Regions from separate parts of the Homo sapiens genome. Here region 2 is linked to region 1. Evidence: fine-mapped expression QTL. A gene starts in region 1. The other region holds a variant in brackets. All regions are shown on one strand. Distances are between the middles of the regions. Region 1 holds the start of MATN1-AS1 (MATN1 antisense RNA 1). Region 2 overlaps LAPTM5 (lysosomal protein transmembrane 5).

What was found. PIP is the estimated chance that this variant, and not a neighbour inherited with it, causes the effect.
Region 2: its variant is fine-mapped to the expression of MATN1-AS1 in spinal cord (GTEx, PIP above 0.99). The same link has a PIP of 0.9 or more in amygdala, caudate, cerebral cortex, hippocampus, prefrontal cortex and putamen.

What each region holds. Positions count from the first base shown.
Region 1 is chr1:30,717,393-30,720,291 of GRCh38, forward strand. MATN1-AS1 (MATN1 antisense RNA 1) reads left to right here and starts at 1,380. Exons shown (of 4, transcript NR_034182.1): 1 at 1,380-2,173. MATN1 (matrilin 1) reads right to left here. Exons shown (of 8, transcript NM_002379.3): 3 at 1,343-1,565. RefSeq lists silencers at 603-782, 823-1,342, 1,903-1,992 and enhancers at 1,403-1,572, 1,670-2,245.
Region 2 is chr1:30,747,667-30,750,565 of GRCh38, forward strand. All of the region lies in intron 1 of LAPTM5 (lysosomal protein transmembrane 5), which reads right to left. LOC105378620 (a long non-coding RNA gene) reads right to left here. Exons shown (of 2, transcript XR_007065566.1): 1 at 2,678-2,899; 2 at 1-2,266. Among named protein-coding and RNA genes, the nearest start is that of LAPTM5, 8.7 kb to the right of the region's middle. RefSeq lists enhancers at 464-773, 1,094-1,273, 2,202-2,281, 2,382-2,431, 2,838-2,899. The variant A/T (reference allele first, on the strand shown) is at 1,478.

The DNA.
Region 1 (2,899 bases):
TGCCCCTGCGGGTCACATCCCAAAGACCCACACACACACCTCCCCTCCGAGAAGGGCTCTGAACCTTCTCCTGCCAGTGCCCAGGCCTCTCAGACTCTCCCGCATCACAGAAAACTCTGGCACCCAAAACTCACGACACAGAAACATGTGTAGGTTTTCTGGGAGCTCTCCTTCCTGAGCTCTGGGCCCTCCTTGGTCCCTGCCAGGATTCTGCCACATAAAAGGGCTCTGTTGTTTTTTGTGTGTGCGGTTTTTTTTTTTGTTTTGTTTTTTTTTTGAGACGGAGTCGTCTCGCTCTGTCGCCCAGGCTGGAGTGCAGTGGCACGATCTCGGCTCACTGCAAGCTCCGCTTCCCGGGTTCACGCCGTTTTCCTGGCGCAGCCTCCCGAGTAGCTGGGACTACAGGCGCCCGCAACAACGCCCGGCTAATTTTTTGTATTTTTAGTAGAGACCGGTTTCACCATGTTGGCCAGGATGGTCTCGATCTCCTGACTTCGTGATCCGCCCGCCTCGGCCTCTCAAAGTGCTGGGATTACAGGCGTGAGCCACCGCGCCCGGCCATAAAAGGACTCTTAACATCGCCTCTCCCCAACTCCCTTAACCTGGGGCTGGAGACCCTCCTCCGTTATCAGGCTCCGCCCCAGCTACGGCCCCACCCCTGGTGCTGGCACCACCTCAGTCTAATCCAGGTTCCACCCCCAATCCACCTAAGCCGTGTCCCTAGCCCTGGCCCCGCCCTGATGTTGCCGTGTAACTCAGTTCCCGCCGTTTTATAGGCTACCGCCCCAGCCAGGCCCCGCCCTCTGATGTGGCCCCGCCCCCCGACGCTGACTTTTTCTGTCTTCACTTTAGCGCTGGCTCCGCCCCTAGCCTTGGCCCGCCTCAGCGCGGACTCTCAGTCTCTGCGCCTGCCACGGCCTCGTCCCGCTCAGCCCTGGCCCTGCCCCTGGAGCCGACTCTCTCCGCCTCCGCCCCGGTCCCGCCCTGGCACTGACTGTCTCCGTCTTCGCCCCTGCCCTGGCCCCGCCCCCTGCCTGCTCTGGCCCCGCCCCGCCGCTCTCTCCGTCTCCGCCCCTGCCCTGGCCCCACCCTTGCCCCGCCCCGGCGCTGACTCTCTCCGTCTCCGCCTCCGCCCCCGGCTCCTCCCCGGCCCCGCCCCGGCACTGACATTCTATCTCTCTCCCGTCTCCGCCTCTGCCCCCCCCCCGGCCCCGCCCCTGCCCTGCGCCGGCGCTGGCTCCGTCTGCGCCTCAGCCTCGGTCCCGCCTCCAGCCCTGGCCCCGCCCCGCCGCTCTCCCCTTCTCCGCCCCTGCCCTGGCTCCGCCCCCGCCTGCCCGCGCACCGCAGAAGGCCTCCTGGAACTTCCTGGACAGCTTCTCGATGACGCTGTAGCTCTCCACGTAATCGACGTGTTCGTCCTGCGGCTCGCTGGCGATCTGCCGCAGCGTGGCCTTGTCCACGCTGCCCACTCCGATGGCGAACAGCTCGACGCCGCTGGCCCGGGCCCGCGCAGACACGTCCTGCACGCTGTCCTGGGGCCTCCCGTCTGTCACCACGATGACCACCTGCGACACGCGGGGCGGTGTGACACCGGGCTCCCGGAAGCCCACGGGACTGTCCAGGAGAGGAGGCTGAGGCCCGGAGAGGCGGGAGGACTGCCGGGTCGCACAGCCAGGCGGCACCCGGGGGAAGAGGACCCGGCTGGCCGAAGAGGAGACCCGTTTCCTCTGACTGAGAGACGTGGCTGGGGGGCTTTCCATCTGCTTCGCCTCCCTCGGGCAGGCAGCTCTGAGATGCCCGGAGGGATGTGATGCCCCATCGCCAAATTGGGGTCTCTAAGGTCAGGGCCATGCCTTCCCCTCAGACTGAGGCGGCTGAGGGCAGGGTCCTCAGGCTGATGGCTGTGGGAGTCGTGCCACGCCCCTCGTGCCCCCGGGAGGCCCGGCCGGGGCTGGGTGGGGGGATCCGGTGGTTCCACATGGTGCAGTTCTGCGCTTTGGCCACCAGATGGCAGCCGAAGCTAAGGGATGGGGCTGCCGTCTCCCGTCTTGCTGTCCTTGTCCCGGTAAGACCGGGGACCCTGGACCAGGGAACCGACGGAGGGCCACTCCCATGTGGATGCCCAAGGGACCAACCCAAGAAAGATGCCGCCCTTATCCTCCTCCACTCCCCGGTATGATACATGCCCCTGCCAGAGAGGGAAAGAATCTGCCTGCTCCCCTCCCACTAGGCTCCTCTGGTCTGTACCCTGGAAAGAAAGAGGTGGCGGACTCTGTCACTGAGATCCGGCTTCGTGACCCCCTGTCTGCACCCGCCCTGAGGCTAGGGCGCTCCCAGCTCTGCCCAGTCTGGGTTAGGCATCCAGTCCCGCTTTGCTGCTTCTCTGCTTCTGACTTGGGTCTGTTTCTGATTCCTGGGTCCCATCCTTAGCCCCAGGTCCTGACACCCTGTCCTGATGACAGGCAGTTGAGACAGGCCGTGTTTAGAAATGCAGCTCCACAAGCTACAGGTCACCTTCCTGAGCCTCAGTGTCTTCAACTGTAAAAAGGGTTGTGGTGAGGTTGAGTGAGATGACTCCTGGTTAGAAGCCAGAAGGGGCAACTATTATTTTTACCATCATTACCCTGGGCTACCTGGGGAGTGACTTTGTACAATCTCTTCCTCTCCAGGGGCCTGGGCTCCTGGCTCTGAAAATCTAGCTGTGACTATTCGCTGCCATCCCGAGGCCCACTGCCTCCTCGAGTCCCTACTCCCCTCCCTGCAACCCAGCTTTCAGATTGTCCACCTTGCTGGGTCCTCCCACAGGTGAACTCCAGGCTGAACACCTGGAGTCTGGTGCCAGCTCCCCCAGCGCCGCTGTGTCACCTGCTGGAGGAGCTCTCTCCTCACTTGCCCACCC
Region 2 (2,899 bases), 30 kb after region 1:
GTTGAGCTAAAAGAATGGGGGCAGGGGCTGGAGGATGGAAATCAGGGAAGATGGGGACAATGGGGTCAGTATTGAACATGGCTGGGCAATAAGGATGGCGGTACCAGAGGGGATGCGGTGAAAACAGTGCACCAGGTGTCACCTGGGAGGCACTGGCCATGGTGACCATGTGAGGCGGGGAGTGGCTGTTGGGATGTTGTTGGAGTTGGCGTGGTGATGACAGTGATGATCAGAGATGCTGTTGGTGATGTTGGTGACAGTGATGGGGGTGACGGCAATGGGGACATCAGGATAGGATGGTGATAAGGAATATCATGTGGATGGTGGTGATGACACAAGAACCCCCGATTCTGGGGTTCAAAGACCAGTCCCTTCTGCAGGAGAGCAGGCCCACTCTCTCTCACTCCCTGAGGCCCAGGACCCACCGTCTCAGAAGCAGGCAGGCGGAGACCCACCATCTGAGATTTTCAGGGAGGTAAAGGTTATAGAGAAAGGACCCAGCCGTCAGTGAGCACACACCCGTGCCAGCCAGAGTGTGGACACTTTCCTATCCGTTTACTTCATTGGCTCCTCCTACCAAATGTGCGAGCCCAGGACAGAGGCTGCACAAGAAGACAGGCCCGGGCTTGTCTTCAACCCTTCCCAACAGACAATGCAGTTTGCCATATGGGTCCCAAGTGCCAGAGCCCTCCCTTGCCCCTCCCCCTCAGGGCTGCTCCACCCTGACCCTGTGTCCTACAGCCTCACACTTCTGCCATCATCATTATTATTATGGCCCCTCCCTGAAGCTCAGTCCCCTCAACCTCACCTGCCCACCCTGATTTCCCTGGGTTGCCTGGGAGGAGGATGTGAGAAGGGAGTCAGATGTGTCACCATCAAGAGGAAGCTCCCCTTCCCCACCCTGTGCTTCTGGTCAGAGCTTATGAGGGCTCAGTGGGGGCCAGCCCCCCAAGAGCACTATCTCCCCAACCACCTCTCCAGCCAGCCCAGATACCACCAGACGCCCCCATTCCTGGGGCCACGCACTCCGCAGCAGCCCGGCCTGGCTGCCTGCAGCTCCCCAGAGCCTGGCTTCTCTCTCCTCTTCACTCTTCCGCAGTTCTCGTCCTCACCCGCCGCCTCCACCTCATCCCCTCCTCCCTCCACTGGGCTCTGGGGCTCACAGACCTCAGTGAGAACCCCAGTGCAGCCGCTGATCCCCTGTGGGATCCTGGCCTGGCCATGTTACTTCATCTGTAACATTTCCTCATCTGTAGAAGGGAGAGAAGAATCCATCCACCTCCTGGAGTGGGTGTGAGAAGTAAATCATTGAAGACAGTGATTCAGAAAGATCAACTGAGCAGCACAGGTGCCTGTGTGTGGACACCCAGCACGGAGCCTGGTGGCCATGGCTGCCTTATTTGTAACAGCCCCAAGCTGGAATCAATCCAAATGTTATTTTGCAGGAAAACAGGCAAATGCATTGTGGTAGATTCAT[A/T]CAATGGAGTATACACAGCAATGGAAAAAATGAGTTAGCTACCCGCAACCACACAGACGAAGCTCCCAAACATAACGTTGGGAGAAAGAAGTGCTCACAAAAGAACACGCGCTGCAGAATTTCATTTCTACGTAATTCTACAGATGTATGTATTATAGAACTACATAGACAGGCAGAAGTCAGTGGGGGCGGGGCAGTGGCGAGGCGGGGGCTCTAGGGGCCTCTGGGTGCTGGTCTGATTTCTTAGTTTGGGTGGAGGTCACATGGGTGTGTTCACCTTGTAGAAGCCCACCAAGGTGTGCACTTAAGATAGCTGTGCTTTTCTATAGGTAAATTATACATCAAGAAAAGGTTTGCAAAAATCAAATAGAGATTGGCTGGCACCTCCTGTGCCAGGTTCCACGGGATCATGAAGATGAATCAGGCTGGGTCAAGACCCAAACGAGCATCCAGGCCAGAGGGCACGACTCCCAGGGACCCAGCACACAGGGCTCTGGGTCAACACCCAGAGCTCAGGGTCCAACCGTAGGGGTCAGGGCGGGCTTCTCAGAGGAGGTGGATCTTGAAGAAGATTCCCCGAAAGAGCAATGGAAAAAGTGTTCCAGGCAGAGGAAAGGGCATGAGCAGAGGCCAGTGTGCATGAGACGCATTCAGGAAACGGCAAGACGTTCCTCTTAGTAAACTGTGATTTGGCGTCATCCATGTGCTGAATACGCAGCAGGCCTCAGTAAATGGCAGCAGTTGGCTGGGGGAACACACGGATCCACCGGTTTGGCAGGGGTGGGGCCTCTGGGGTTAGAGAGAAAGGGGAAAGAGCATGCAGGAGATGTGACGGCTCATGCAAAACCTAGAGAACCTAGACTCGGACGGCTCAGATGGCGCTGGAGGAGGTTGTCACCTGCAGCACAGGAAGTGCTGTGACTGGGCGCTAGCAGCTAACTTTGCCCCAAAGGCAAACAGTACCAGTGAATCCCAGCAGCAGAGATATTCTGGCTGGTGGTAGCTTATCAAATCTCCCTTTAGGAGCAGCCAGTGGGGGGCTCAGAGTTGGCCTCCAGGTATGACACAAGGCCCTGTCATTCTCCACTTCCTAGATATCTGGGGAAGCACCCTCCACTCCCCAAACGATTCCCTAAAACCATCACTTCTCCCTTTATCTTCAGAGCAAAGACCCACAATAGTGATAATAAGTATTGATACTATTATTGTTGTGCATTTATTAGACGCCAGGTCCTCTTCTGAACTTATACAGTCGGCCCTCTGTATCACGGGCTCTGCATCTGAGTATTTTCAATCTGCAATCCACGATGTGGAACCTGCGGATAGGGAGGGCCGACTGACCATACACTCTCTCGTGTCAACCTCGCGCCAGTCTTGAGAGACAGGTTCTAACATGAGTCCCATATTTTTCTGATTTTGCAG